Linked DNA regions of Homo sapiens. The protein of the gene in region 1 interacts with the protein of each later gene in a biochemical or structural test. Each region holds a gene or a part of one and is shown in the gene's direction. Other genes may lie near its edges.

Region 1 (6,959 bases):
GTGGTTCAAGTCTAAATCTGTACCACATTCGGAGATGCCAAATGATTAGACTGAAACAGGGAAACGGGGTTTTTCAGTCATTTTTAGTCAGTGGTTTTTCCATAGTGCTTTTTTCCTATGGCCAGTGCAAATTGTGTTAGCACACTTGCATATGTGCCGTATTAAGGGTTGACAATTACTACATCTTTATTCTCTAAATGTAGTATAATTTGCCTTTTAACCTTTGATCTGTATCTTGCAATAGAATGGCTTTGGTTTTTTTCTTAGTAAATAGGAGCCCACTTCTAAAGTCATTTCACCCCTCAGCCCTATTCTCTTTCTTAGATACCCTTTACAAGAGAAAACTTCCAAATGGATTTTTGCATCAATAGCAGTGTGTAGGTCTCTCTGGTTCTTTCTATATCATCATTTTATTATTATGTCCTAATATAAAGTACTGGCTCATAGGGCCAGGGTATTATTATAGAATATTATTCTCGCATGTAAACAAAGATATCTTTGCTTTAAGATGTGAGAAGAAATGAATTTACTTTGTTTGCATTAAGTTATGGAAGAGTTGTAATATATACTTTAAGAAAGAAGAGAAGAAAACTAGTATCTCTAAGCGGTAACTATGGCAATTTTGCAATATTTTCAGTAGTGCTAGTAATTTTTTCCTCCTTGAGTACACATTAAATGTACATAACATAGCGCGGTCAGGCTTGTGGCACAGTGCATTGAATTCAAAAGTCAAACAGCAAATTTGAATTCTAACAGAATTCAAAAAAAAATTTTTTTAGTCAGTACTACTAAGGCAGACACACTGATTACTAGGTACAAATCAAACCTTGATGCTAAAACTCTTCATCATTGTAATTTCAAAGCACTTACCTGCTTCAAAACATTGTAAACTAAGACTGAACACCTGTATAGTTTAAAAGCAACACTATCAATAGCATTTCAGCCATTTTGCCAGCCATGTGTAATCACAACTGCAGAAATAAGGAGAAAACCCCTGTTTTTTTAGTTTAGCTAATTAGATCTGTAACATCACTGGGATTGCTCTGAATGAATCCTGAGAGTTTTGTTTTTTATAAGCACCCTCACCACATGCCATAGCTTTGTCTCTTTTAGACACCTCGATGCAGCGGCTGGAAGGACTGGAGAGCAGCTGTTGTGCTGATCTGTAGCTGTCAGCTGTGATTCCTGTCACCTGAGTCAGTTTGGTCTGGAAAGCGAAGGCCTTCCAAGCTGTAGCAGATAGTGAGCTCCAGCTGATGAGAGAAGGCTTCAGTGGAAGAAGAGTGAGGACATAGGCAGAAGGAAGTTTGCTATTTCTTGTCAGTTGCACATTGCTTTATGAAGACTACAACAAAAGTGCTTAATCCCAGGCTGCTCATGACTTTCATTTCAGGTGGCCCTTGGGCACATTGACAGAGTTGCCCTTCCCTTCTTTGCAACACCAGGCTTCCTAGAGCACCCGGTTGCATGCTTTGCAGCTAGGTGGCAGTGGTTTCAGGGAGATCCAGTTGGATCCCTGCTTGAAAGCTTAAGCCAATGGTTCACCCATGAGAGGAAGTTGTCAGTGCTTCCAGGAAGATTGCCCACCAAAGGAACTGAATAGTTTTTAGATTTAAAGGCACCAGGATAGGGTCACTCTTACTCTGTAGAAAGAGACCGTTCTATACACTGTGACGGATGGGCCAGGGCCTCTGGACTTGCATTCTGATAGGTGCTTTAATTTAAATGTGCCCAAAGGGAGTGACTGTCTTCAGGAGAAAGATGGCTTGCATTAACCTCGATCAAGTGGGTTGTGCAGCCAGGTCAGGGAATACGGTCAGGGAGAGGATAGTGCTGGTCATGCCCCCGATGCAGCTATGCTCTGAATGATTTCATTCCTGAGAGTGATAGCATTCTGGTCCTGGCTGCAGTGGGGTACAATTTACGTCCTAAGTGGGGGCTACTCTAATTATCCCATTCAAATGGAATTTTTTTCAACATTGGATAGAAGGAATTGAAGAGTTGTAAGTAGTGATTAGTCTGCTAATCAGTTCTTCAGATGAGATATTGAATGGTAACACTCTGAGCTTAAAACTCAGCAGTGTGTCTGTGACCTCCACGCAAATCAGAGGAAGCAATGCATCCACGCTGAGCCTCACCATGTCTTCCTCCCAACTCTCTTCATACTCTCTGTGTCTTCCAGCTCTTCTTTCTCTGGCCGGCTCTCTTTCCTCTTCTCTCTGCATATGTGAGAACGCCTGGGCATCCTGGGTAACAGCAGCCCCAGCTGCCCTCTCCTGTTCCCTGTTCCAAGTCCCCTGCACTGACCTTTCTTGAGTCTCTCTGGCTCTGTGCATGTCTTTGGGACTCTGCTCATCTGGCTTTTCCTCTGTGTGTGCCTCTCTGTTTGCTTATGTCTCTGGCTCTGTCTTCCCCACCCCTCCCCTCACACACACACATACTCCCAAATGTAAGGCTCTGTGGCAGGTTGGAATCGGAGTAAGGCTTGAGATTCACTGAGTTCTGTAGGTAGGGAAAGAAGTCAAGGGAGTGGAGGTTCTATAAGGAATTAACAGCTGAGGACGGAAGGGTTTGTTTCCCGTTTGAACCTAAACGCAAGTGGAAAAGAATACTCAGAATGTATTTTTCTACTTTACATCTGCTGGGGAAGGAAATGTGTCAGGAAGCCGCTGCATCTGGTCATTTCATCGCATCAGAATCACAGCAGACGTGGAAGATTCCATGTGGTGGGGAATAAAGAAATAACTTTATGCTCTCCTGAAAAACAGCGGGAGCCTATGTGTGTGTGCGACACTGTAATCTCAAGGAGATTCACTCAGAGCTGTCTCAGTCCAACTCCTGCATGACCAGATCTTCCCTTAGCATCTTTTCTGTGATGAAATATTATCTTGTGTTAGAGTTAGGAATAGGAACTAACCTGTAGGAGCATGTCCCCAAATGGACATTTGAATGGACTAACAAAAACAACTGGAAAGACTGAATTTCCGACACAAAGGAATGATGGGATCAAAAAGAAAGCAGTGAGGAGTTCTTGAGTCTTGTAGTACCTATTCTTATTTTAACTTGCTTCATCCTTGATCTACCTGAGACACTAAGAAGGAAATTAGTTTTCCAAGAGCTCTTTGAACCTGTCTAGGACTGTAGTTAAACCTATTTGCCCTATGGGGGTTCTTCACACTCGAAAAACTATTTCCTTATCACCAACGACCCACCCAGAAAGGCCAATGAGGCCAAATGTAACAATTTTTAACATTTAAATATAACTATTAAAATTGCATTAATTGTGAACAGTGAATTAAAGGGTTGTCTTCTCCAGGAGACAGTATGTGGCACTTTTCGTAAATTTCATTTAATATATAAAAATTTAAATCACTCACTGCAACATGCATTTAAAATCTTCCAAGAAGGTAGAGGTATCATTTTCTGTTTTGCTTTGTTTTAAAACAGTTGCCTCAAGCTTCTGTCTTAAGAGTAGTGACTTAGAATCCAGATATCTTTTGTTTTAGAAAAACAAGCAAAACTATGTTGCAAGACTGACAGTTGTAATGTTTATTTGCCACAGATCAAAGGTTCACAAAGTATATCAAATTTACATCTACTTGGGGTACCTTGATAGATTATTATTGTTTTTCTTTTATCTTTCCCTTCAGGAATTTGGAAACTCGTTGTCACTTTTTTTAATTTTAAAAATACTAAATTGTAATAGTTTTCTTTTGCCAAATGTGTGCGTACATATTCAAAGCAATGAAACTATTTCAAGCCATACAACCACAGGGGTGGGAACCCTTTTCACAAATTTTAATGTGTTTGTATGTAAATAGATGTTTGTATGAAATATTTTCATGATAGAATGAATATATTTAAATGAAGTTGAATTATTCCAGTGCTACTTAAACACATTACAAAAATTTTGGTGAGAATTATCTGAGTCTATTGAGATGTAATGCAGATCAATTTTGATTTTTAAAAATCAAAAGCCTACAATAACTCTGACTCTCAGCAACTTCCTCGGCGTTGTTGCACCTGACGTGGAGAGAGCTCGTAGGCTTCCCCAGTGCCTCAGCCGCTTCCTGGTGGAAGTTAGGTGCTAATGGAGGTGTGTTCACCTTTTAGTGATATCACTGCAGGCCTTTGAGGGGCCTGAGAGTGAATCAGAGGCATTAGAGACACCGGTGCAGTTATCTGGAGCACAATTTCTTTGCAGGGCAGCAGAATCAGAAGCCAGACTTGGCCATGTGAACCTCGAAACTCGGTTTCCCGGCCGCCATCAACCGCCACCCTTACTGCCTAGTCACACACGTCAGGGAGGCTGCCCTCAGTGGAGTTGGGGTTGAGACCCCAGGGTGGGACTTCACAGTTTTGCCAGCAATCTCTACCTTCTGACTTCTGCCTCGCAGAGAGGAAGGAGAGGGGAGCATCTGGCAAGGGGCCCATTTCTCAGCACAGTACATTTCCTGTCTCAGCTCTGGAAGACTATGCACCCAAGCACCAAACTTCCAACCAGAGAGAGAGACGTCCTCCGATAACAAAAATCCTTGCTTCCTCTGTCTGTGACTTTACACACAGTTGTTCAAAGTTGTTAAATGTCAAGAGTCAATCACATCCCTAGGACATACCTCCCAACTCTCCTGACTCTTATGTTATTGAAAAAACAAACAAACAAAAACTCCTTTATGATGATATTCAACTTGAGTGGGGTTTTTTTTCCACTTTGGTCCTGGATATAATGAAATGATACATATTAGGATAAATTTTCACTGTGTATAGTAGCAATACGAACACACATGCCAATGTATCAACATATCTACTTGGTTACATTTTGGTTTATGATAATTAACCTTGATTCATGTATTGGGAAGCTACAGGGACTACGTAATACCTGCTTATCACATAGGAAAATTATGTCCATGATTCTGAGCTCCCTTCTTCAAAAGTTTCCTCCTGGGTGTTCTATGTTCTCTCTTTATCCTGAAATACATTTATTAGGTTGTGAGGTATGTTGAAGAAGTAGAAGCCAGGGGTATGCTTTCAGCATTTATTGCAACCAAAAGTTAACCCCATCACGGTTAACGAGCATCTTTGGTCTCTTGTGGAATTTGAACTAAAACTATGAGCCTTATTCAATATCTATAATTCTATGATTTTTTTAAATTATGGGAAATTAATGAAAGATGTTTACATGAATAATGTTTGCCCTTACTGTGTTATGAATGAGTTTTTTGTAGTGTGTCTGGGTGCATGATGCAAGAGAGTAGGAAAAATGTTTCTGAAACAAAACTTGACAAATATTTGTAATGAAAGTAAATTTAAAGATTGCTATAATTGCGCTATAGAAACAATGCAAGTATTAAACAAAATATACAATCATCTGTCATTGTCTTCCTTTGGTCATCTAGGTTAGAAAAGCAATAATGGTTTTCTTATAATGTGTCTACCTGTATATTTAAATTACTAAGTGAACTTTACATTTTAAGTTGTTTTAAAATATTATTAGCCATTTATCATTTTCAGAGCATTCTAGTAAGAGCGGAGGATTTGATATGATTCCACATACACCCATAAATCCAGAAGGATTAGCCACACCAACAGAAAGTGTCGGATTGAATACATACATGGTAAGGGTATGGAATGCAAATGAGATGATCAGGGCAAATAGCTGAAAGGAAACTTCAATTCATGATTTAAAGAAAATATAGAAATTTTGTTAGACGTTGTGGTAGATTTTGGCAGTCTGAGGATGAGTCTGAGCTGAGAACCCTGGCAATCCCTTATTCCTGCCCTAATCACAGTCAACATTTCCGTTTTTTTTTTAATCTGAGATGAAGTCTCACTCTGTCACCCAGGCTGGAGTGCAGTGGTGCAATCTTGGCTCACTGCAGCCTCCACCTCCGGGATTCAAGCGACTCTCCTGCCTCAGCCTCCCAAGTAGCTGGGATTACAGGCGCTTACCACCACACTCAGCTCATTTTTGTATTTTTAGTAAAGACGGGGTTTCACCATGTTGGCGAGGCTGGTCTTGAACTCCTGACCTCAAGTGATCTGCCTGCCTTGGCCTCCCAAAGTGCTGGGATTACAGGCATGAGTCACCGTGCCCAGCCAGTCAACATTTGTAAAGCACAAAAGCCAGTGACAAAAGGAGTCAACATAGTACCTCATTATTAGCTGGGCCTTCTGCCCAGGACCCCAAAGAAGTGAATTCTAGGAAGTTTGGCAGGGCTACACGAGGCACAGTTAGGCCTCAAACTGAAGCAGGCCATGAGATCTCCTGCTTTATTTTACCTCCCTCAGTTGCCCAATCCTTGATTTTATCACACTTCCTTCCATGGAAGGAAGGAAACAGAAACGAGTGAGATGACTGGGTCCAAACTGATGTTGGATCAGCTTTTCCACCTGCACAGACACATTCACATGCTAGATCTTTCAGGCAAGGCTTCACCCTCTAACACGCATGGGTCAAATCACAATATTAATATTCTTCTTCCTTGTGGGAAAGGGGAATACAGGATTAAAAATTTAATACAGACTGAGGGAAGCTTAAGAAGCTAACCTTGAAAGTGAAAGATTGGGCAACTTTCATGGGTTAAGATGATTGATTTGGGCCCAAATGTTGTAGAATGAGGTAATGTGAAAATTAAGACAAAATTATGTTAGACCAAATTAGTAACCATCCCAGCTATACTAATGGGATGGTTACCAATATCTGCCTTTGGGTTTAAATGTTTGGAATCATTCAGACTGCTAGTTTATATTAAATGTGAAATTGTTTCAGCAGTCATCTCTAGAACTAGGTAACAGCTATCGAAGGACTTTATGCTGTAGTTTCATTTAGTTTCAATTCAGCATCTGACTGATTTGGGATTGTTCAATAAGAAGCCTCTAGTTGAAAAATAAGAGGAAGAAGAAGAAATTCCATTCCTCCTCTTGAAGCTGAAAAAAAAAGGAAAAACAGAAAAGGGGTT
Region 2 (8,277 bases), on another chromosome or scaffold:
GGCCTTAAGCAATCCTCCTACCTCAGCCTCCCAGAGTTTTTCTTTGTTTATTAATCAGTCTTTCCAGAAACTTACTAATTTTATTTGTCTTTTAAAAAAAATTTATTTCCATTTTCTTTGGGTTAATTTTACTTTTCTAACTTCATGAGACAGATTTATTTTGATTTTTAAATTTCATTAATTTTAGCCATCCTCCTTTTCTAATATGTTTATTTAAGGCTGTCATTTTCCTCTAAATACTGCTTTGGCTGCATCTCAGTTTTTGATACATAGTTATTTCCATCGTTGTTCTTTTATTTAACAAATACTAAGTGCCTCCTATGTACCAGATAGTGGGCTAGATACTAAGAGTTCAGAGTAAGCAAAACACAGTACTAGCACTTAATGAGCTCATAATCTAGTTGCAGAAATAGATATGTCAACAGATTATTATGTAACCATATAATAAGTGTTATGTTTGAGGTATGTAAATACAAGGGGCTGTCACAGAACAAACTCTGCCTGCTGGAGTATAGAAAGGTTCCATGGGGTAGATGGGATGATATTCATCCATCCATCCACTCATCCATCCATCCATCCTTATAGTCATTTAACAAGCATTTGTTGTGCATCTATTTTATGTAAGTCTTGTGCTAGGTGCTGGAACTATGGCTACGTCTTGAAGGATGTGAAAAAAATAGGCTAATAGAACAAGGTGGGGGTGGGATTTTAAAGCAGAAGTATCAACCTATGCAAAGGCACAGAGGCTCAGGGGCATGGAAATGCATGATGAAGCTGGCATGATGGGGAGTAGCTAGTTCACCAAGGCTGTGTGTGGTGTGGAAAGGTGTTTAGATTTTGGGGTTTTGGGTTGGAAATGAGAAGCCATGGAACTTAAAGAAAATAAACACGTTTTTTCATTTGATATGTATTCTGGCAGTAGAATAAGTGTGAGGCAGAGACCAGTTAAGAGGCTTTTGGACTAGGCTCAAAGCAAGGACAGTAAATGTGGAGAGATGGATATAGATCCAAGAGATAACTAGGAGTTGGAATCAGTAGAATGGAAGGATCCTGGGGAGTTAAAAAAAAAAAAAAAGGCATAAAGTATCACTTCCAAGTTTCTGGCTTGCGTGACTGGATGAATGGATGGTGGCGCCATTGACTAGGGTAACGAATACCGAAAGGGCCACAGGCTTTGGCAGAGAAGTTACAAGTTTGGTTTTAGATCAGGCTGAGCTTGCCAAAGAAAGTGCTATCCAAGAGCATCTGGTCTAAGGAAGCAGGAATAAACAAAGGAGCATTTCTGGAAGTGGAGAGAGGATCAGTGCCACCGCTAGCCAATATGGTACCTTTGTACAAGTTATTAAAAAAAAAAGCATCTCTCCAGGGCAGACCAATTAGAAAAGGGCAACCTTTCTTCACAGTAGACTCAGCCACTTGGCTTGGCAGAAAGCCCAGGATGGATTTTAGCCCCATTCACACCCTTGGCTGGGTACCTATGTATAGTGCACAGATTATACAACCATACACAGGAGCCTTGGGACTTACTTGGGTTTAGGGATATGCCTAAGAGCTCAGCCCATTGTTCAACAATAGAAAAAGGAGGCAGGAAACTGAATTTGGCTGGGGGTGTTGGTCAGGGAAGGAATCTAGTAATTGCTGAAGGATTTGGTGGTCAGGCCTCTTTCCAGTGGATTACATTGAATCTTGTCCTCACCCGTGAAAGGGGTTACTATGAGCCCTCCCTATCATCTAAGGGCATTATGAGGACTCAAGGAGACCATGTATATGAAGTCTTTCCGGCATCTCTGTACCCCCAATTTCTAGTACCAGACATGGCACACAGGTTTAACCATTAAATGGTAAAAGGAATGGTGAAGGTCAAATGAAGAGGTGCATAGTGGTAAACTGAAGAATGTATACTTGGTAAGTGTTGTGACTAGTGAGCAAATATGAAGATAGTACAGGCCCAGGGAGGGACATCTTCAGGGGACCAGTGGTAAGAGATAATGGCAGATAAAGAGGGTGTTGGTCAGAGGTGTCTGCTGTGGCATGGGGGTCTCAGAGCTTGGTCTCTGGAGTATGGGTAAAGGGAAGCAAGCTGAGAATTGAAGCACCAAAGAGCAGCAGAGGCGCCTGAGACAAGAAATCTGGCAGGTAGTCAGCCCCTTAGCTGATGTTACGGTTTGGGAAGAGTGAGGCAAAAAGAAGAAAGTCATCCAGGGAGGAAGAAATGGCTGTTGGGAAGGGTTCTGTCATAGTAGAAGAGATTTGGGAAAAGTGAAGAGGTCTTATGCATGATGATGTGGAATCCCAGTGGCAAGAAGCAGCAGGATGATGGCATCCTGAAGTCTACTCTCTCTTCTCTTTGCCCTACTCAGTAAGAATGGAGGAAGACTGAGTGGGAGAACTGGAGGGTTTCTTGAGGGAACATAGTAGGTGATATGTTATACTCAGGACAAAGGATAGCCGGAAGAGATGAGCTCTAGATTGGTTTCCGCGTAGGTCCTTGAGAGTTTGATAGCTTGCTTGATCCATTGATGAACAAAATATCTGTTGTGGCCCAACTGGATCAGGCAGTTGAGATCTCAAGGTTTGGTACAGTGTCTGAGGAATTTAGGCAGCTGCAAGACAGGTGCTTCTAGGCCGAGTGCGGTGGTTCATGCCTGTAATCCCAGCACTTTGGGAGGCCAAGGCAGGCGGATCACCTGAGGTCAGGAGTTACTGGCCAACATGGTGAAACCCCGTCTCTACTAAAGATTTAAAAAATAGCCATGTGTAGTGGTGGGCACCTGTAATCTCTACTCGGAGGCTGAGGTAGGAGAATCGCTTGAACCTGGGAGGCAGAAGCTGCATTGAACTGAGATTGCACCACTGCACTGCAGCCTGGGCGACAGAGTGAGACTCTGTCTCAAAACAGACAAACAAAAACAAAAAACAGGTGCCTCTAGCCACTTAGGTCCCAACTAAAGCAAAAAGGGAAAAAGCATCTTCCTGAGAGACAGACCACTCCAAGCCTGAATTATCCAGGGTAGTAGCCAAGAGAAGCAGAGCTAGAATCCAGTCCTACAGCCTTAGTGAAGACCCAGGAAGCACTGGTAACAGAAGTCCAGCACTCTGTATTTCATAAGGATCTTTTATACATAGATCTGACTTAATCATCATAGTGATCCTGTATGGTGGGTATCTGCATTTCACAGATGACAAAATAGAGGTGTAGAAGTTTCTAGAAGAAGCTGGAGCTATTTACCTAAGGGATATGAATTGATTCTTGTGAGTTGTTACGTCTTTAGTTGTCTGTAGCCTTCGACTGGAGGCAGCTCATGCTAATCTGGTCAGCCTACATGTAACTGGATATTCTAGCCTTTAAAGGGTGTTTGTCCTCTGTTAGAGGCTAGGACTCCACCTCAGGTTAGATTGAAGGTGCTGCAGGAGTATTCATCTCCCTCCCCAGGACCCTGAGACTTGGAGGCATGGACAGGACCTGGGCTGTAGGTCCTGACCATAGTGTATGTGTGTTAGTGTATGTGTGTGTGCACATAGGCTGTGTGTGTGCACATAGGCTGTGTGTGTCTGGGAGGGCTGTGGAATCAGTATATCCACTCTGGGGGTACCCATCAAGCACACATATACACATTTGTGTAAGTCTCTGTAAGTGTTCAGGGGAAGAAGGATCAAAAAAGTGTTTCTTTTTTTTTTTTTTTGAGACAGGGGCTCCCTCTGTCACCCAGACTGGAGTGCAGTGGCATGTTCTCGGCTCACTGCAGCCTCCGCCTCCTGGATTCAAGCAATTCTTCTGCCTCAGCCTCCCAAGTAGCTGGGACTACAGGCGTGTGCCACCACGCCTGGATAATTTTTGGTTTTTTGTTTGTTTTTTGAGACAGAGTCTTGCCCTGTTGCCCAGGCTGGAATGCAGTGGTGCGATCTTGGCTCACTGCAACTTCTGCCTCCCAGGTTCAAGCAATTCTCCTGCCTCAGCCTCCCGAGTAGCTGGGATTACAGGCATGTACCACCACGCCCAACTAATTTTTGTATTTTTAGTGGAGACGGGGTTTCACCATGTTGGCCAGGCTGGTCTCGAACTCCTGACCTCAAGTGATTCACCTGCCTCGGCCTCCCAAAGTGCTGGGATTACAGGCGTGAGCTACCATGCCCAGCCGTGTTTCTTGTTTCTCCCAACCCTTCCACTTCTTCCTATTTTCATGTTTTCTCTCTCATTTCTCTTTTTCCTCTCCTTTCCTTGTGAGTTTAGATGGCATTGTGATTAAGTTCTCTGGCACAGGACTTGTCACTCAGCTTTGTCATGTCAGAGGACAGGGTCCCTCTGTGGCTGAGACTTTGTAACTTCAGTCAGTTGCTGAATAATCCAGAGTACTTCTGCTGACAGTGGCCTGAGCGGGTGGGGGGGAAGTGACGGGCAGAATTTGGTGTAGCCACACCTGAGACTGAGCCTCCCCTCAGCCCCGTGTCTGGCACCATCATGGTGGGTGGGACCAGAGGGTACATGTGAACACAGACAAAGATTTGTTTTGGGGGTGAAGGTAGAGCTTGGTCAGGGGAAGCCGAAGAAAGTCATATATCAGGAACAGCCCAGGAGTTAGCCTGTCTGTCCCCTTTCCACAGCAACAGGTGAGAAGAAGGAATGCTGGTCGTGGGAGTCCTACCTAGAGGAGCAGAAGGCCATTACTGCTCCAGTCAGCCTCTTCCAGGACGTGAGTTGGACAATTTCCCCGTAGGAACAGCTTGTCTTCCTAGCCTAGGGACACACCACCAACCTCAGGCCTTCTGGCGTTTTCTGTGTCAGGCATGCCTCAGTGGACTGGCAGAATGGAAAGGGAGAGACTGTTTAGGGGCCCAGAGTGGAAAAGGGCCCCCCATAAGGGGCTGGCAGGGTGGGAAGAAACAGAGAGGTGGAAGCTAGGCTCACTCATCACTGGGCCTGCAGACTTTTGAATTCTGGTGACTTCTACTCAATTCAGCATTGATCTTTCCATGACTTTGGTGAGAGGGAGCCCTTGAGTCCAGCCCTGACTCACCCACATTTTTCAAGGGACCTGGGAGATATTCTCTCTCTCTCTCTCTAGATCCCTGTAGTAACGATCCCCAAATAAGTTGCCCCTTTGGAAATACCAGGCGGGTGGGGCCTAAAGGCAGCTCCTTCACCCCAAGCCCACTAGGCAAGGATAAGGCTGGATGGAAGCTGGGTCCTCTCCACTCTGTGCGTTGACAGTCCCAGGCAGTCACTCACAACAAGAATGGCTTCAAACTGGGCATGAAGTTGGAAGGCATTGACCCTCAACACCCGTCCATGTACTTCATCCTCACCGTGGCTGAGGTGAGCTGGGGCTTGGTACCACCTTTCTGATGATGTCTCTCAGTGCAGATTGATGGATCTTGCTGGGGACATAGAAGGAAACACCTCCCTCCCCTCAGAGCACACACAATCTAGTAGTGGATGAAGCTGGAATACATAGAAAGCTTAAAACAACAAAAACCAGATGGAGTTCATGGGACAGTCCTATTATTGGATGAATGTATACTGTCCACTCTGGGGGAGCTTGAGGAGATCCCGAGGGCCAGGGATGTTGGCATGAGTCAAACAAGGTCCTTGTCCTCTAGGAGCTCACAGTTGTCTGGGGAATCAGCCAAATAAACATGTCAGTGACATGCCACAGGGGTGGCAGCAGACTTGAGCTGGGAGGCACAGTTGGGTCAGTTCTGTCTGAGGAGCAGCAAAAGCATAGAGGAAGGGCCTCCTTTGCAGAGTCTTGAGAGATAAGTTGTGAATAAGGAGGGAGCTCCAGGCAGAAGGAGCAAAGTGGGCAAAAGCCCTGGGGCATGGAACAGACTGCTACCTTCAAGGAATTGCCACTAGCTCAGCAAGACTGGAAGCAGAGTGCGAGTGGGGAGCAGTGAGAGAAGGTAGCAGAGGGAGCGGTCATCAGGAGCCCTCAGCAGTCCTGAGCCTTGGTGGCTGCCCTCAGAATTCTGTCCAGGGCTCAAAAGGGCAGGAAGCTGTCATAGGGTCCACCTCCCTTGCATCCAGAACTCAGGGCTCATGAGTACATGAACTGTCCTCACTGTAGAATAGGACAGGGTGGGGTACAATTGGGAGGAAAGAAAGGTGGGGTTGGGGAACCTGCTAGCATTAGAGCCCCTGAGACCACCAGACTGGGCCAGGAGAGGTGAGGCAGATGGGGAGTGGGGCATCTCCTGACATTGGAGTTCCTGATTCCCCTCATGGGGCCAGGTATGTGGCTATCGCCTACGCCTGCACTTTGATGGGTATTCTGAGTGCCATGACTTCTGGGTCAATGCCAACTCCCCTGACATTCACCCTGCTGGCTGGTTCGAGAAGACGGGCCACAAGCTGCAGCCTCCCAAAGGTAAGGCCTAGCTGGGTTGGTCACAGTGAGGCAGTGAGTCCTCAGACCCTTCGCTTCTTCCCCTTGGGTCCCCGGCTTCCAGCTCTTTTGTTTTCTGACCCTGTACCCTGTTCCAAAGCCAGCCTCTCTTCATCGCATCCTGATGACTCTGCGCTGGGGCCAAGTTGACCAGAAGCCCTAGAACTTCCGCTTTGCACTTGCCCTTTGAGTGTCTACTCAAGTCGTGTCCTGCTTCAGTAGTGGGGAATCCCTGGGCAAGTTCTTGAGGGTTGGGGGGAGGTCCTCAGGCATGCCTGATTCTGCTGCTTCACTGTGGGGTGCCCTTGCTGTGGCCCAGCCTCTGCACGGCGCTCTGTTCATGCCCCTCGAGGGGCCTAGGTTACAAGGAGGAGGAGTTCAGCTGGAGCCAGTACCTGCGCAGCACAAGAGCTCAGGCTGCCCCCAAGCACCTGTTTGTGAGCCAGAGCCACGTGAGTGCCCCTGAGTGAGAGTGGATGTCACTCCCATGTGCCAGAGTTCACTGCAGCTGGCCCAGGGTATCTGACTCATCAGAAGGGAGCTCATGTGCTGGTTCTCTCAGCTTTGTTCTGATCTCTCATATCAGATGGGAGGGGTACAGCTGGGCAGGGTCCAGGGCCAGAGATGGGAAGCTGGTTATAGGTTTTTCCCGACTTCCCTCCCTCCTTTGCTACTGCAGATACCCTGTCCTCACATCCCCTTGGAGCCCCTGGCCCACTACCCTAGTCTGAGCACTGAGATGTCATTGCTCATATATTCTTGCTTTGGCTTGCTCTGCAGTTCTTTGGTGTAAGGTCAATGCCTCTATTCTGGGAGCTTCTTTTTCTTTCCTTTTGCCCAACATTGAGACTCTTCCATTTATTTCCAACAATTCATCCCTTGTCCTTTCCTCTGTTCAGGGCAGCTGGCAGCTTATCCAGCAGTTAAAGTATCTCATAATCCCAACCAAAAGGCCTAAGAGATACAGGGAGCCTCCATTAAAAATATCATACTGGACCAGGTGTGGCGGCTCATGCCTGTAATCCCAGCACTTTGGGAGGCTGAGGCGGGTGGATCACCTGAGGTCAGGAGTTCAAGACTAGCCTGGGCAACATGGTGAAACCCCCATCTCTACTAAAAATATAAAAAATTAGCTGGGCGTGGTGGTGGGTGTCTGTAATCCCAGTTACTCAGGATGCTGAGGCAGGAGAATCGCTTGAACCTGGGGGGCGGAAGTTGCAGTGAGCCAAGATCACGCCATTGCACTCCGGTCTCAGCAACAAGAACGAAACTCCGTCTCAAAAAAAAGAAGTATGTATCAGTCTTACTGGCTGGGTGCGGTGGCTCACACCTGTAATTCCAGTACTTTGGGAGGCTGAGGCGGGAGGATCACTTGAGCCCAGGAGTTTGAGACCAGCGTAGGCAACATAGTGAGACCCCATCTGTACAAAAAATGTCATTAAATTATTAGCTGGGCATGGTGCATGTGCCTGTAGTCCTAGATACCACAGTAGCTAGCTGAGCTGGGAGGATTGTTTGAGCCCAGGAATTCAAGGCTACAGCAAGCTATGATTGTACCACTGTACCCCAGCCTGGGCGACAGAGTGAGACCCTGTGTCTAAAGAAAAAAAACCATATTGAATGTCTAGAGTTTCCCTGGGCCCAGGACTCCACCATGCTCTTCAGGCAGAGACAGTTACTCCCCTACCCCAGTCCAGCCCCAGAGTTCATACTTGCAAGTTCCCAGGTGACAGGTGGGGTCCTGCCTGCTGTTGTGACAACGAATGCCGACTTTTAATTCAAACTATTTAAATACTGGCCCCGCCGTTGACTAGCATTGTGTTCTGGGCCAAGTGATTTAACTTCTTAAATGGGAATAGGGTTGTTGTAAAGGTCCAAGGAGGTGATGTCTTTT
Region 3 (8,105 bases), on another chromosome or scaffold:
TTTGTATAAGGTGTAAGGAAGGGATCCAGTTTCGGCTTTCTACATATGGCTAGCCAGTTTTCCCAGCACCGTTTATTAAATAGGGAATCCTTTCCCCATTGCTTGTTTTTGTCAGGTTTGTCAAAGATCAGATAGTTGTAGATACGCGGCATTATTTCTGAGGGCTCTGTTCTGTTCCATTGGTCTATAATGAGAACACATGGACACAGGAAGGGGAACATCACACACTGGGGACTGTTGTGGGCGGGGGGGAGGGGGGAGGGATAGCATTAGGAGATATACCTAATGCTAAATGACGAGTTAATGGGTGCAGCACACCAACATGGCACATGTATACATATGTAACAAACCTGCACGTTGTGCACATGTACCCTAGAATTTAAAGTATAATAATAATAAAATTTAAAAAAAAAAGAGGCTGGAGTTCACAAGGAGATGAGGGTGGAGACTGAGAAAAGCTTTGCCACCTTGTGAAAGCTGCAAGCTCCTTTTACAGTTATTTATTAGCAGGGATTTCATTTCAAAGCAATTCGGGTACTTAAAATCTATCTCTTGTTTTCACTTTTTTAAAAAGCAGTTTTTCAGGCAGGGCGCAGTGGCTCATGCCTGTAATCCCAGCACTTTGGGAGGCGGAGGCGGGTGGATCGCCCGAGCTCAGGAGTTGGAGACCACCCTGGGCAACATGGTGAAACCCCCATCTCTACTAAAATACAAAAAATTAGCTGGGCATGGTGGAACGCGCCTGTAGTCTCAGCTACTCTGGAGGCTGAGGCATGAGAACTGCTTCCACCTCCACCCTGGAAGTGGAGGTTGCAGTGAGCCAAGATCACGCCACTGCACTCCAGCTTGGGCTACAGAGTGAGATTCTGTCTCAAAAAAAAAAAAAAGTTTTTTTTTTTTTGAGTTTTTCTTGAGTCCTGCGGCAGTTATGCAGAGACACCCAGCCAGGGTGCAGCCAGGTCACGGGGTGCTCTATGTGTCCAGACCCCATACCCAGTTATGGGTGCTGAATCTTTCATTTGAAACATGGATGCAGCTTCTTCAGTCTATCACACCCCTCCATGGCTCCACATTAATCCCCTAGCACTAATGGTGTTCATCACATCTTCTGACAACTAATGCAGTTTGTGCTGGAAAAAAAATTATTTTATAACTCCAAGGACATTAATAATTAACTTCTAGTCCACAAAACTAGTAATATCAGTTTGCTGAAATAAAGTCACCAGTGAGTGTTTCATTCTTCTTTAAAGGGTGTCTTCTATTATTATTATTCTACAGTGCAATTTAGTCATCAAAGGTTTACTCAGCCTCATGTTTATAAATTATATAGGGCAAGGATTTAAGTCTTCTGGCCCTACCTGTTCTGAAGACAGGGAGGGCCATAACCTTGTTGTCATACAGGGCACCTGCCTTGAGAGATGATTTGTGAACTTGAAGTTTCTTGCTTCTTTTAGAAATCTGGGGTGAATATACAGATTTCCCTTTGTGACGCAATCAGAGGAATAACCAGCTAGTTGCCTGCCACGAAGAGAGACTGGCTTTTATCCTTCAGAAGGCCGGTTGGAAACAAGTTCATCTTTTTCAATCGAGTTTCAGAATCTTGTCTTGATTATGTGACATAATAATGGTGGCTTTCCAATTCTTCTGTGCAATATTGTTTTTTCATTGTGGTGGTTACAGATAGTTTTTTTTTTGAGGGGGAAGGGCTACTGCCTTAGAGAAATAAAAGTAAAGCAGAAATAATCTAGTGTGCTGCCTACCTAAGTTGGAAATTCCAAGTCCTGACCCACGTTTACATCCCAAGGGAGATGGCTGCCAATCAAGGGCTCATCCACTGTTCATCCAGGGTGAGGGACTTTGGCTTTCCTGAAAAAGTGGTGAGTTTCCCATGCAGCCCTCAAATCACAGCATCCCAAGATGTTGCCATCACAATTAAAGGAGTAGGGGAGGAAGTGGCAGGTGTCTTCCTTTTTTGGTTCCTCCGTTTGAAAAGGGCTTAAAGTAAAAATCAGAGTTAAAGTAACTGGCCTGATCCTATATAGGGGGGTGGGGTTGAACTCCTCGAGGTCATAGGAAGGAGGACCTCGGTTTCCCTGCCAAAACACTCTCATCCCCCAGCTGCAACCCTGGCAGCCCTTGGCCAGAGCCAAGCTAGAGGATGGAAGTCACACTCAAGGGCGTCCGACTCTGGATCTTAGAGGGATTCCTGGCGTTGGCAGGGAGGGCCGAGTCAATTCATTCGGGGCGAGATGCATTCCAAGAATGCTTCTGTGGTCGGCGAGGAGTGGAAAAATCAGGTATCACAAATATTCTGAGGAAACCTAATAGGTACCAGAATCGCAGGGTTCAAACAGGTGACAACGACAAAGGACATTGGCAACTAGAACTCAAAAAGGGGTGAGCGCACTCTCTGCCCGGTGCCCGAGCTTCCACCACTTTCCCCAGTGTCCCCTCTCTTCTCTTTCCTAGGTTGACACCAGCCTAAGCGCCAGCGTTCGCCGGTGAGGGGGCTCCGTGGAGAGGGGGGCGGAGTCCCGCGCCGAACGCCGGAATCCAAAGTAAACACCTCGCCAAACCTACGTTTAGAAAGTGATACCGAACACCACATTCACGTTTTAAAAAAAAATACTGTTTGCTAAGAAGATGAGAGCAAAACATTTCCCAGCTGGAAAATTACTGATCACAAACCAAGGGGAGAGTGGGGGTGGGGGAGGCAGCGTTATAAGATTGAAGTAAAGATCGCCGTTTCCTATTCCCTTCCCGGTGGGCAAGGACGCCTGCGGCGGGCTCGGTGTGCACTTTTTGAGAGCTAGGATCCCACCGCATCGCTCCACTTCCTGGCACATGGTCACTTCCCAGGGAAGTCCCTTTAGGGGGGCCTGACCTACCCGGAGCCTGAGCCGAAGGAACGAGTTGTCCTTTGACCTTTACTGGCCATTTCACCTCTTTATGACTCAATTTCTCATCCATAAAGTGGAAAGGAGAGTGCGTGGCTTGAAAAGTCATCAGTGAGTGTTTAATTCTTCTTTAATGGGTGTCTTCTATTATTATTATTATTCTACAGTGCAATTTAGTCATCAAATATTACAGGCAGTGGCTCACGCCTGTAATCCCAGCACTTCGGGAGGCCGAGGCAGGCTGATCACTTGAGGTCAGGTGTTCGAGACCTGCCTGGCCAACATGGTGAAACCCCGTCTCCACGAAAAATACAAAAATTAGCCGGCGTCGTGGCGCACGCCTGTAATCCCCGCTACTCGGGAGGCTGACGCAGGAGAATCGCTTGGACGCAGGAGGCGGAGGTTGCACTGAGCTGAGATCGTGCCACTGCATTCCAGCTTGGGCGACACAGCGAGACTCTGTCTCACAAAAAAAAAAAAAAGAAAGAAAAAAAAAGGAAAGGGCTTCGAGATGGCTGGTTGAAAACTGTCTCCGCGCCTCACAGTCCCTCTTCTCTCCCTTATGCCTCTGAGTAAATCTTGAGCCCTTTCACTCCCTTTCTCGCTATTTAAAGTATCAAAACCATAACTCCCCATTCGTGCCTCTTTCCGCCTGTTCCCGGCGGAACACTCCTCTGGCCTTCTCTTGAGGCTCCCAGTTCACGCTGCACAGTGCTGGGCACTGCCTCCTCTCCACACCCCTAGCGCCCCCCACCCCTCAGCAGAAGGGCCCGCGAGGAACCGTGCGAGGTCAGGCCGAGCGCCGGCACCGCCACCGGCACTGGCGCTGAGCGACGAGAGCGGACTCCTGCGAGCGCAGAGAGGGAGGGGGAGATGGAGGGCTGGATGAGTCACGCGGATAATCGCGCTCTTCTCCAGCGCGCAGACAGCGCGGCAAGCGCGTATGCTAGCAGGGGTGCGGACGCGTGACCGTGCCGCCCGCTGACCCCACCAGTCTTCGCGGGCTTCGAACCCAGGGAGCCGACAATGGCGGTGAGTACGGCCCTGGTCGCGCAGCGACCGAACCTGCGCCCGGTTCCTCGCGCCCCGCGCTGGGGCGGACGCCGCCGCCGCCGCCGACACCACTGCCGCCGGCGTCAGCTCGGCTCCAGCCCGCCAGCTGCCTGGCTGGCGTCACGGCCCGGCCCAGCCCCGCCCGCGCCCCTCCTTCCCCTCCCCCGCCCCCACGTGCGCCGAGTTTGTTGATTTAGCTGCCATAGCAACGATGGAAGGGAGCCTCGGGGGGGGCGGAGAGAAGAAAGGGAGGGGCGGGGCATGGGAGAAGGCGGAGGAAAAGGCTGTAGCGAAGGAAGTTATAAGTAAGGAACGCGCGCCGGCGGCCGGCAGTTTCCCGACCAGAGAGAACGAACGTGTCTGCGGGCGCGCGGGGAGCAGAGGCGGTGGCGGGCGGCGGCGGCACCGGGAGCCGCCGAGTGACCCTCCCCCGCCCCTCTGGCCCCCCACCCTCCCACCCGCCCGTGGCCCGCGCCCATGGCCGCGCGCGCTCCACACAACTCACCGGAGTCCGCGCCTTGCGCCGCCGACCAGTTCGCAGCTCCGCGCCACGGCAGCCAGTCTCACCTGGCGGCACCGCCCGCCCACCGCCCCGGCCACAGCCCCTGCGCCCACGGCAGCACTCGAGGCGACCGCGACAGTGGTGGGGGACGCTGCTGAGTGGAAGAGAGCGCAGCCCGGCCACCGGACCTACTTACTCGCCTTGCTGATTGTCTATTTTTGCGTTTACAACTTTTCTAAGAACTTTTGTATACAAAGGAACTTTTTAAAAAAGACGCTTCCAAGTTATATTTAATCCAAAGAAGAAGGATCTCGGCCAATTTGGGGTTTTGGGTTTTGGCTTCGTTTCTTCTCTTCGTTGACTTTGGGGTTCAGGTGCCCCAGCTGCTTCGGGCTGCCGAGGACCTTCTGGGCCCCCACATTAATGAGGTAGGTGAGGCGCGCGGCGCTGGGAGCAGGGAGGGGTGAGGACCGGTGGGACGCGCCGGAACGACGGCCGAAAGCCGCCCCTGACTCTCCTGTCTCCGCTCCCTGCCTTGCTCGCAGGCAGCCACCTGGCGAGTCTGACATGGCTGTCAGCGACGCGCTGCTCCCATCTTTCTCCACGTTCGCGTCTGGCCCGGCGGGAAGGGAGAAGACACTGCGTCAAGCAGGTGCCCCGAATAACGTGAGTATCGCTCCGGGCCGCCGGGAACGCCCGGTGGGTTTTCGTGGGTGTGGTGGGGGCGGGCGGAGCCTTGGGGTCACCAAGAGCCACTGAACGAGGGTAAGGAGCGGCCACCGCGCGGACTCCGCAACCTTCCCGGGATAGCTTCCGTGTCCTTGGCTCAGCTGTGTATGCCCGTGGTGCGAGCACTGCGGAGCCGCCTGGGGCGCAAGCCGGGTCTTCACCAGTCCCCGGGCGCGCTGTCGGTAGGGCGGGCGCTCTCGGGCCACCGGGCGGGAGGTGGCCGCGTCCCCAGACACTGGCTGGGCCAGAGTGAGTTTAGCGCGTAGGCGGCCCCGTGGCGAGAGCGCACCGAGAGAGCCTCGGTGTGCCAATTCCGGGGACGTCCACGGGACCTGGAGGGGGAGGGACCAGCCGCGGCGCTCGCTCACACGCAATTGGGCAGACAGGACATAACACCCGCAATACAGACGCATCACCTCTTCTTCGACCCGGGAGTGGGCCGAGATTGCAGCGCTGGCGCCCTGGGTTCCCGGGTGCTTCCTGCCTGACCAGTCCCCATGTCTGGGCGGTGCAGTCGCGCGTGGCCCGCCAGCACGTCAGTATGTCGGGTGGCAACAGGGGACCACCACTGACAGGTCTCTCCCGCCCTGTCCCCGCAGCGCTGGCGGGAGGAGCTCTCCCACATGAAGCGACTTCCCCCAGTGCTTCCCGGCCGCCCCTATGACCTGGCGGCGGCGACCGTGGCCACAGACCTGGAGAGCGGCGGAGCCGGTGCGGCTTGCGGCGGTAGCAACCTGGCGCCCCTACCTCGGAGAGAGACCGAGGAGTTCAACGATCTCCTGGACCTGGACTTTATTCTCTCCAATTCGCTGACCCATCCTCCGGAGTCAGTGGCCGCCACCGTGTCCTCGTCAGCGTCAGCCTCCTCTTCGTCGTCGCCGTCGAGCAGCGGCCCTGCCAGCGCGCCCTCCACCTGCAGCTTCACCTATCCGATCCGGGCCGGGAACGACCCGGGCGTGGCGCCGGGCGGCACGGGCGGAGGCCTCCTCTATGGCAGGGAGTCCGCTCCCCCTCCGACGGCTCCCTTCAACCTGGCGGACATCAACGACGTGAGCCCCTCGGGCGGCTTCGTGGCCGAGCTCCTGCGGCCAGAATTGGACCCGGTGTACATTCCGCCGCAGCAGCCGCAGCCGCCAGGTGGCGGGCTGATGGGCAAGTTCGTGCTGAAGGCGTCGCTGAGCGCCCCTGGCAGCGAGTACGGCAGCCCGTCGGTCATCAGCGTCAGCAAAGGCAGCCCTGACGGCAGCCACCCGGTGGTGGTGGCGCCCTACAACGGCGGGCCGCCGCGCACGTGCCCCAAGATCAAGCAGGAGGCGGTCTCTTCGTGCACCCACTTGGGCGCTGGACCCCCTCTCAGCAATGGCCACCGGCCGGCTGCACACGACTTCCCCCTGGGGCGGCAGCTCCCCAGCAGGACTACCCCGACCCTGGGTCTTGAGGAAGTGCTGAGCAGCAGGGACTGTCACCCTGCCCTGCCGCTTCCTCCCGGCTTCCATCCCCACCCGGGGCCCAATTACCCATCCTTCCTGCCCGATCAGATGCAGCCGCAAGTCCCGCCGCTCCATTACCAAGGTCAGTCCCGGGGATTTGTAGCTCGGGCTGGGGAGCCCTGTGTGTGCTGGCCCCACTTCGGGACACACGGGATGATGCTCACCCCACCTTCTTCACCCCTAGAGCTCATGCCACCCGGTTCCTGCATGCCAGAGGAGCCCAAGCCAAAGAGGGGAAGACGATCGTGGCCCCGGAAAAGGACCGCCACCCACACTTGTGATTACGCGGGCTGCGGCAAAACCTACACAAAGAGTTCCCATCTCAAGGCACACCTGCGAACCCACACAGGTAGGGGGACAAACTGCAGAAGGGAGGGGGGTTAGCTTCCAGCCCCATAGGCTACCAGTGGACACTCCTCAGTGCCTCCTTGACTTCCCAGGTTAGCTTCCAGCCCCATAGGCTACCAGTGGACACTCCTCAGTGCCTCCTTGGCTTCCCAGGGCAGTCTATCGCCTTGATCTCCGGGATCACTGGAGAGAACAGCAAACCGGCGCCTACTTTTCTGCCCAGGAGCCTTTTGCTTGATGGATGGTATCTGTGTTTGAATGTGCAATTTTGTTAGGCTTTTAAAAGGCAGGAGATTCCCCGCGGTCTGTGGGCCTCTCCTAGCTTGGCATTATAATCAAGAAATTATACTTTGCTATGCAAAAGCATGATGGCTTTTTTAAAAAAATCGTTTTTTAATGTTCCCTTCCCAGGTTCACCCTCCCTTTTTGTTATTTTGAATTCTGGTCGTAACAATTCGGTCTTACTTTTTTATTTTTTATTTTTTGTTCGTTTTGATTTACATTTTTATTTTTTTTCCCCCACAAGCAGAAGGTTTTATTTTAAATTCCAAGAATATGATGGTCAAAATTGCTGGGAAGATTCTGATTTAGGGTTGTCACTGCAGAGCATTTCCATGTCAATGTAAGTAGGTACCCAAAGTCGTTTAGGTGCAGCATTCAGTAACGTAAAGGTAAAGAAAAAAAAAGTAGCCACCTGTGGCTTTTTATCCCCAGTCGTAGTAGGAATAAGATTGCATGGTTTGGGCACACTACCAATCACAATTTCCAAATTTCATTTCCACCACTGAGATGCCTTGACTCAAATGAAACATTAGTATAGGTTTAGGTGGTGTTTGTGTGTTTTTGGTGAAACATTAGTATAGGTGTAGGTGGTGGTTGTGTGCTTAACTGACCCCCTAAAAACAAGACCAAATACTTAAGCACGGAATGTATTTCTGTTTATGATATGGAATTCAATACACCCCTTCAGTGGTATAAAGACATTCCTGGATTTCTTTAGGATAGGGTCAGAGTTGGTTTACTATCTGGCCTTCAGTTTTTAAAAGGGGCGATTCTTTGATATAGCAATAGCGTCAATTTTTTTTT
Region 4 (8,277 bases), on another chromosome or scaffold:
TCAGTCTCCGAGTAGCTAGGACTACAGGCACACGCCACCACACCTAGCTAATTTTTATATTTTTTGTAGAGACAGGGTTTCATCATGTTGCCCAGGCTAGTCTTGAAATCTTGGCCTCAGGTGACCCACCTGCCTCAGCCTCCCAAAGTGCTGGGATTACAGGTGTGAGCCACGACGCCCGGCCTCAGAGGCCTTTCTGAATATAGAATTTTTTAGAATTCTGGTAAAAGACATAATATAAAATTTAATGCTTTAACCATTTGAATGTATGGTTCAGTGGCATTAAGTACATTCACATTGTGGTACAAACTATCACCACTGTCTATCTCCACACCTGTTACATCATCCCAAACTGATATTCTGTACCCATTAAGTAACAACTTCCCATCCCCTGGCAATCACCATTCTACTTTCTGTCTTTGTGAATTCACCTACTCTAGGTACCTCTTATAAGTGGAATCATATAGTATTTGTCTTTTTGTGTCTGGCTTATTTCACTTAGTATGATGTCTTCAAGATTCATCCATGTTATAGCATGTGACAGGATATCTTTTTCTTTTTTTGTTTGAGACAGGGTCTCACTCTGTCACCAGGCTAGAGTGCAGTGGCGTGATCTTGGCTCACTGCAACCTCTGCCTTCGGGTTCAAGCAATTCTACCACCCTGGCCTCCCTGAGTAGCTGGGACTACAGGTGCGAGCCACTACACCCGGCTAATTTGGGTATTTTTTGGTAGAGACAGGGTTTCACCATGTTGGCCAGGCTGGTCTCCAACTCCTGGCCTTAAGTGACCCGCCTGCATCGGCCTCCCGAAGTGCTGGGATTGCAGACATGAGTCACCACGCCTGGCCTAGGATTTCTTCTTTTAAGGCTGAATAATGGTCCAGTGTATGTATATACTATATTTTGTTTATCCATTCATCTGTGGATGGACATACGGGTTGCTTATACCTTCTGGCTATTCTGAATAATGCTGCTATGAACATGGATGTATAAATATCTCTTCAAGATGCTGCTTTCAGTTCTTTCGAATATACACCCAGAAGTAGAATTGCTGGATCAAATGATATTTCTATTTTCAAGTTTCTGAGGAACCCACCATACTGTTTACTGTAGTGGCTGCACCATTTTACATTACCACCAACAATGCACAAGGGTTTTAATCGCTCCACATCCTCACCAGCACTTACTAATCTCCATACCCTCACCAACACCTATTATTTTGTTTTTTGTTTTGTTTTGACAATGAGAGACCCCCTAATGAGTGTGAGGTGTATGTTATTATGGTTTTGGTTTGTGTTTCCCTGATTACTAGTGACGTTGAGCATCTTTTCATGTGCTTCTTGCCCATTTATATATTTTCTTTGGAGAAATGTCTTTTTTTTTTTTTTTAAGAGACAGGGTCTCTCTGTTACCCAGTCTGAAGTACAGTGGTACAATCCTGTCTCACTACAGTCTCAACCTTCTAGACTCAAGCAGTTCTCCTGCCTCAGCTGCTTCAGCCTGCTGAGACTATAGGTGCAGACCATGACACCCAGCCAATTTTTTTTTTCTTTTTCATTTTGTTGGGACAGGGTCTCACTGTGTTTTCCAGTCTGGTCTTAGACTCCTGGGCTTAAGCACTCCTTCTGTCTCGGCCTCTCAAAGTTCTGGGGTTGCAGGCATGAGCCACAGTGTCCAGCCCCATGTCTTTTTTTTAATCAGGTTTGGTTTTTTTTGTTGAGTTGTTTGTATTTTCTGGATATGTCAGATACGTGATTTGCAAATGTTTATTCCCATTCTGTGACTTGTCTTTTCACTCTGTTGATTGCAAGCTTTGATGCACAGAAGTTTTAAATTTTGATGTGATCCAGTTTATCTATTTTTATTTTTGTCTCTGAATCATAGAGTTTTGAACACATGGCATGTATGCCTCTACACAGGTTTTCAGGTTTGTTTGTTTTTGAGATGGAGTCTCGTTCTGTTGCCCAGGCTGGAGTGCAATGGCACAATCTCAGCTCACTGTAACCTCCACCTCCTGGATTCAAGTGATTCTCCCACCTCAGCCTCCTGAATAGCTGGGATTATGGGCACCTGCCATCATGCCCAGCTAATTTTTGTATTTTTGTAGAGATAAGGTTTCACCATGTTGGCCATGGCAAGTCTCGAACTCCTGACCTCAGGAGATCCGCCTGCCTCGGCCTCCCAAAGTGCTGGGATTACAGGCATAAGTCGCCTTGCCTGGCCAGGTCTTCAGGTTTTATCCTGTCCTTTCCTCTTTTTCCATTTCCTTGCAATACCTTCCCATTTCTGCCTTTGCTCAACTTTGCTCCGCCTGGTGAACTTTAAAGCTCCAGTTAGAAAGCTCTCTGGAGGGGTATTTCAGCAGAAATTGTTTTCATAGGTGTAGTCTCCTACAACTATAATAGAAGTAGTCACACTGTGTCACTTATTATACTAAGTCCCTAATTCTGTCACCCTCAATTATGAACTTTTATGGAACAGGAGTTTTCTCTATTGCCAAGTACCCAATATCTGGCCCATAGTAGGCAATCACATCTGTTAATGGAATAAATAAGTGTGTCATTTTTATTCCTCAACTTTTTAACTTAGCACTGACTTTCTTTTTCTTTTTCTTTTTTTTTTTTTTAAATGGAGTTTCCCTCTTGTTGCCCAGGCTGGAGTGCAGTGGGGCAATCTCGGCTCACTGCAACCTTTGCTTCCTGGGTTCAAGCGATTCTCCTGCCTCAGCCTCCCGAGTAGCTGGGATTACAGGCATGCGCCCCCATGCCCAGCTAATTTTGTATTTTTAGTAGAGATGGGGTTTCTCCATGTTGGTCAGGCTGGCCTTGAACTCCTGACCTCAGGTGATCCATCCGCCTCGGCCTCCCAAAGTGCTGGGATCATAGGTGTGAGCCACCGCACCCGGCCTCTTTTATTTATTTATTTTTTTGACGGAGTTTCGCTCTTGTCACCCAGGCTGGAGTGCAGTGTGCAATTTCGGCTCACTGCAATCTCCGCCTCCCAGGTTAAAGCAGTTCTTCTGCCTCAGCCTCCCCAGTAGCTGGGATTACAGGCACCCAGTAGCTGGGATTACAGGAGCCCACCACCACTCCCGACTAATTGTGTGTGTGTGTGTGTGTGTGTGTGTGTGTGTGTGTGTGTGTGTGTGTGTGTGTGTTTGAGATGGAGTCTGGCTCTCTCACCCATGCTGGAGTACAGTGGCACGATCTCGGCTCACCACAACCTCTGCCTCCCGGGTTCAAGTGATTCTCCTGCCTCAGCCTCCAAGTAACTGAGATTTCAGGTGCATGTTAGCATGCCTGGCTAATTTTTGTGTTTTTAGTAGAGACGGGTTTTCACCATGTTGACTAGGCTGGTCTGGAACTCCTGATCTCATGATCCAGCCGCCTCAGCCTCCCAAAGTGCTGGGATTACAGACGTGAGCCTCAGCCTCCCAAAGTGCTGGGATTACAGGCGTGAGCCTCAGCCTCCCAAAGTGCTGGGATTACAGGCATGAGCCTGTAATTAGACTGCACCTGGCCTAATTTTTGTATTTTTAGTAGAGACGGAGTTTCCCCATATTGCCCAGGCTGGTCACAAACTCCTGATCTCAGGTGATCTGCTGGCCTCACCTCCCAAAGTGCTGGGATTAGAGGCGTGAGCCACTGTGCCTGGGTCAGCACTGATTTTCGTGTCTAAACTCAAAAAAAAAAAAAAAAAAAACCTCTGCTCCCACTATTTTTTCCTTTCTTCTATATAGAGAAGAGAACACTCAGTTTTACAAACCAAAAGAACCCTTTGGAATCTTTGTCACCCTCGTTTCAGTCATTGTTTGCTCAGAGAGCTTTCTTCAGTGCAGCAGCAATAAAGCCGTATATTCAAGATTTACAGCCAGCCTTTGCAATTCCCTTCGCCGACTGCTCAGGATTTAAGGAATGGTTCTTTCATTCTTTAGGTCTCTGTATTCCTTTAGTAAATGCTAAAGCATTTACTAAATGCAAAAGCTAATTATTTAAATTTAGTAAAAGTAGCATAACTTTTGAAAAAGGGGGGCTAGGGATCCCCCTAGGCTAGAAGAGTTTGATTTATTGTTACTTTTGGGTTGATGGCAGCCTTTTTGGTGAGGTCTGTGCTGGAAAGCTAACTTGTACCATTAGACCTCACTAAATGCTTTCCTAAGTGTGAGGAGGTGATACTTAAAAAGACTGGAACAATTTTATACCAAAACTGGGACATGGATGTGCCTTCTGCAGTTTGAATATAAAAGAAAGTCATTTTTGTTTTCTTTCCAAGGCCATGGAAATAGCATCTCAAAGGACCAAGGAAGAACGGTCTAGCCAAGATCATGTGGATGAAGAGGTAGGATTTATTATCTATTCACAGCCTTTGGAAACACTTGTGTTTTGAGGGTTTTTTTTTTTATGTTGCTAGAGCATAAACTTGATTTAAATAGATAAGCAGCTTTTTCAAATGATGGTAATATTTCCTTAAGATATATTATAGTAAATGATTTAAGTGAGCCAAGTTGGATAGTTTACATTTCACTGTATTGGTCCACTCAGCAACCTGTTAGCCCATTGTCCTAGATGGAGAAAATTTTTAAAGAGCCTGTTAGGATATAGGCGTCAAGAAGGAAAAGCCTGTTTTTAATTTGCAAATGTGAGTTTTTAAATGACTTAAATATTGATTCTAGAAATGTTATAGATTTTAAATATTATGCTTTGATAAAAACGAGTCAGGGTGTTTTTTTGTGAAGGAGCCATAGTAGGCTTTTAAAAAAAATTCTCACAACTCTTAATGGTTGACTATGAGGTGCCCTGTGTTTGTCGGCAGCTCTCCACCTTTTTCACTGTAGCAGCTGGGTATGTTTCGTAAGGCATAGCCAGGCAGCGCTTGCCAACTGTAATTCCGCCCCTTTCCCTCCTGCTCAGAAAAGCTTTTTGGAACAAAAATGAAGGAGAAGTGTTATTCTAAGGATAATCTTGAATCAGCTCTAATGTTTTTTTTCCCTTCCTTAAAATAAATCATATGCAAAATTTAGTGTTCTATCATTAGTAGTGTTACTTTTGGGACACCACATCACAGATGGGATACCAGTGTGTGCAGACAGCTTAGCCAAGCATCAGTGTTAGGGATGAATGAATATATAGATTCCCCTGTAACCTGATGGAGGAGTATGCTGTGTGAATGTGAGAAGTGTATGAATAACAGTTTTGATTTTGCTTTTCCTCTCTGTTAGGTGTTTAAGCGAGCATATATTCCTAGAACCTTGAATGAAGTGAAAAATTATGAGAGGGATATGGACATAATTATGAAATTGAAGGAAGAGGACATGGCCATGAATGCCCAACAAGATAATGTAAGTAGCTTGGTTTGTATATAGCAAGCAGCTCTTCAAAAGTAGTAGGGGACTGTCCCAAACCTATCTGGGCCTTTTAAGTTCCCCTAATCTTGAATATTGGCTTCTGAGCTAGTGAAATGACTAACTCTATCTGTGTTAACTTGTGTGCACATTGAACGCAAAGGGAATTATTTGGAATTTATGAGAGGAGGTAACACATTTGAATGAATCCAACAAGCTGTAATTGTAGAAACAAGATTCAGATAGAAGTCTAGGCTATTAATGGTTATTATATTAGGTCCATTAACATATATTTCTTTAACATACATCATTCAGGAACAATTTCTTTTTGGTGAAGGGTCAGATAGTAAATATTTTAGGCTTTGCAAGCCAAGAAACAAAATTGAGGTGATTACGTAGGTCCTTATGTAACAAGAGAGAAAAAAATTCACCCTCAATTTTTATTCGTGAAATTAGAAATACTTTAATAATAGTTGAATACACTTTTGTGTAATACAAGTATACTAAAGAAGAGTGGAATTATTTGATGTGGGGCAGATAATATTTCACTTAATTGGGGCTCAAAGTTTGTGTTTGCTATCTTCAAATTGATTGCAAATGTTTATCTGTAAAAACTACCAGGTAGGCTGGGCGCAGTGGCTCACACCTGTAATCCCAGCCCTTTGGGAGGCTAAGGTGGGCGGATCACTTGAGGTCAGGAGTTCGAGACCAACCTGGCCAACATGGTGAAACCCTGTCTCTACTAAAAATACAAAAATTAGCCAGGCATGGTGGCGTGCTCCTGTAATCCAAGCTACTGGGGAGGCTGAGGCACGAGAATCACTTGAACCCGGGAGGCGGAGGCTGCGGTGAGCTGAGATTGCGCCATTGGACTTTAGCCTAGGCTACAGAGCGGAACTCTGTCTCAAAAAAAAAAAAGGCCCAGTACGGAGGCTCACACCTGTAATCTCAGCACTTTGGGAGGCCGAGGTGGGTGGATCACCTGAAGTCAGGAGTTCGAGACCAGCCTGGCCAACATGGTGAAACCTCGTCTCTACTAAAAATATAAAAATTAGCTGGGCATCGTGGCAGCTGTAATCCCTGCTACTCAGGAGGCTGAGGCAGGAGAATCTCCTGAACCCCAGGTGGTGGAGGTTGCAGTGAGCCAAGATCGCGCCACTGCACTCCAGCCTAGGCCACAAAGCAAGACTCCGTCTCAAAAAAAAAAAAAAACAACTACCAGGTGGCTGGTTGGATTTGGCCAGTAGATCTGGTAGACAGAAATAATATCAATATTATAAACTTCCTGTGTTACAGTGAGATTAATTTTAGATACCTTTTTATAATCATAGGAGACATTATTTAACCCACATTGTTCTTAATAGTGCAATATGCATATTTCATTGTCTAGTTTTATGTTGATCCTTATTTTTTTTTTTTCATTTTGGTTATAAGATTCTATACCAGACTGTTACAGGATTGAAGAAAGATTTGTCAGGAGTTCAGAAGGTATGAAGAACATGTGTTACTGTTTGTTTATGTGAAAACAGTTTTAAAGGATATAAACTCTAGTCATACTGTTTTTTATTATTATTTAATATTATTAGAACTAAATGTTATTTTATATTGTTAAAATGTTATAATTGCTTTCAAAGTCTGTGGACATCTTCAGAAATGCCATTTTTGTGTTCTTTCTAAACACAGCACTGAAATTTGGAAATTAATTTATTTTTCTTTCTGTCTCTGAATTGTTCAGTGATTGCAGGTGAGGTATTTATCTTTTTGTATCCTGGTCGTCATTTGTGGAGCTCTTAATGATAGCCATTGTGCTTCTTGATGGTTTTACAACCAGCTTAGGAGAACTTTGGAATGTAGTCTCCTACCAGGGTATTACTTGTTAAAGAACAATCTCATGAGTTCAGCAAGTCCTGCTGTGCTGGATTCCTGTGATGTTCTTTTTTCTTAAAACAATCTTGTTTTGTTTTACATTTTAGAAGGGCAGGGATTAAGTAATTCTAACTTAGGCAGTCATAAAAGCAGTCTTTATTTTTTTAAATCTTCCTAATTGAAGACTTAAATAAAGGATCACAGTTTGCTTTCTTAAAATCATGTCTTTTCTGTGGAAAGAATTGAATTAGGGGAATTCTGGTATTTTGCATTTCTGAGTTATAATAACAGGTGTCATAAGGAAGTTATGCTTTGGATTCCAGAGCATGAAGATTTTATTGCAGCAAGCTAGAAAATCTTGTTGTACAATTGACTTCTAAAGATCTGTTTTTTTCTTATAAAAGGGAAACCTCACTCTTAAAAACTGCTAGGAAGCGCTGTATTAGACAACTGCTGAATTTCAGGAAGTAATGAAAATTTCTCTTCTTCACATATTGTTTTCCCTCCCAATTGGATTAGTTTATTGCTAGAAATGTGGTTCACAGGAAAACAGCTGTGAAGTTATCCATATAAATCTTCATTTTCTACCTCTATGTATATTTTGCCTCTTTCCCAATCCCAACTAAATGCTCCTGATTAGCTGAAAGAAGGAGAACAGCTCTGTTGTTGATCTAGGTCACGCAGTAAAGCCCTGGTTCCTTCATTTGAGTATGTTCTGGAGCCTTACTTGGAGTGGCTACTTTCATGTTTCCCTCCTGATGTTCATTCTGGTGTTTTGATGTTTCAGTACAGGATGTTAGTTTTTAACATATATTTGCGAGCCTAAAATCTGAATTCTGGCATTAACACATTTAACAACAACACATAACTTGGTTTGTGTGTTGTTTAGAATAACATGGTTCTTTAATAATTTCAAGGTCCCTGCACTCCTAGAAAATCAAGTGGAGGAAAGGACTTGTTCTGATTCAGAAGATATTGGAAGCTCTGAGTGCTCTGACACAGACTCTGAAGAGCAGGGAGACCATGCCCGCCCCAAGAAACACACCACGGACCCTGACATTGATAAAAA

Evidence for each region.
Region 2: the proteins of SETD7 (region 1) and L3MBTL1 form a complex in vitro, tested with the Homo sapiens proteins (one study listed by BioGRID).
Region 3: of the proteins of SETD7 (region 1) and KLF4, one has a biochemical effect on the other in vitro, tested with the Homo sapiens proteins (one study listed by BioGRID).
Region 4: the proteins of SETD7 (region 1) and RIOK1 form a complex in vitro, tested with the Homo sapiens proteins (one study listed by BioGRID).

What each region holds. Positions count from the first base shown.
Region 1 is NC_000004.12:139,504,446-139,511,404, reverse strand, and holds the end of SETD7 (histone-lysine N-methyltransferase SETD7), read left to right. Parts: 3' UTR 1-5,367; downstream 5,368-6,959. UniProt on the Homo sapiens protein: Histone methyltransferase that specifically monomethylates 'Lys-4' of histone H3. H3 'Lys-4' methylation represents a specific tag for epigenetic transcriptional activation.
Region 2 is NC_000020.11:43,524,055-43,532,331, forward strand, and holds part of L3MBTL1 (lethal(3)malignant brain tumor-like protein 1), read left to right. Parts: intron 1-4,602; coding exon 4,603-4,691; intron 4,692-5,148; exon of another isoform or gene 5,149-5,209; coding exon 5,210-5,314; intron 5,315-6,229; coding exon 6,230-6,365; intron 6,366-6,743; coding exon 6,744-6,835; intron 6,836-8,277. UniProt on the Homo sapiens protein: Polycomb group (PcG) protein that specifically recognizes and binds mono- and dimethyllysine residues on target proteins, thereby acting as a 'reader' of a network of post-translational modifications.
Region 3 is NC_000009.12:107,485,943-107,494,047, reverse strand, and holds the start of KLF4 (Krueppel-like factor 4), read left to right. Parts: upstream 1-4,278; 5' UTR 4,279-4,875; coding exon 4,876-4,880; intron 4,881-4,997; coding exon 4,998-5,118; intron 5,119-5,780; coding exon 5,781-6,753; coding exon of another isoform or gene 6,754-6,855; coding exon 6,856-7,020; intron 7,021-8,105. UniProt on the Homo sapiens protein: Transcription factor; can act both as activator and as repressor. Binds the 5'-CACCC-3' core sequence. Binds to the promoter region of its own gene and can activate its own transcription.
Region 4 is NC_000006.12:7,406,113-7,414,389, forward strand, and holds part of RIOK1 (serine/threonine-protein kinase RIO1), read left to right. Parts: intron 1-4,273; coding exon 4,274-4,339; intron 4,340-5,219; coding exon 5,220-5,339; intron 5,340-6,776; coding exon 6,777-6,830; intron 6,831-8,125; coding exon 8,126-8,277. UniProt on the Homo sapiens protein: Involved in the final steps of cytoplasmic maturation of the 40S ribosomal subunit. Involved in processing of 18S-E pre-rRNA to the mature 18S rRNA. Required for the recycling of NOB1 and PNO1 from the late 40S precursor.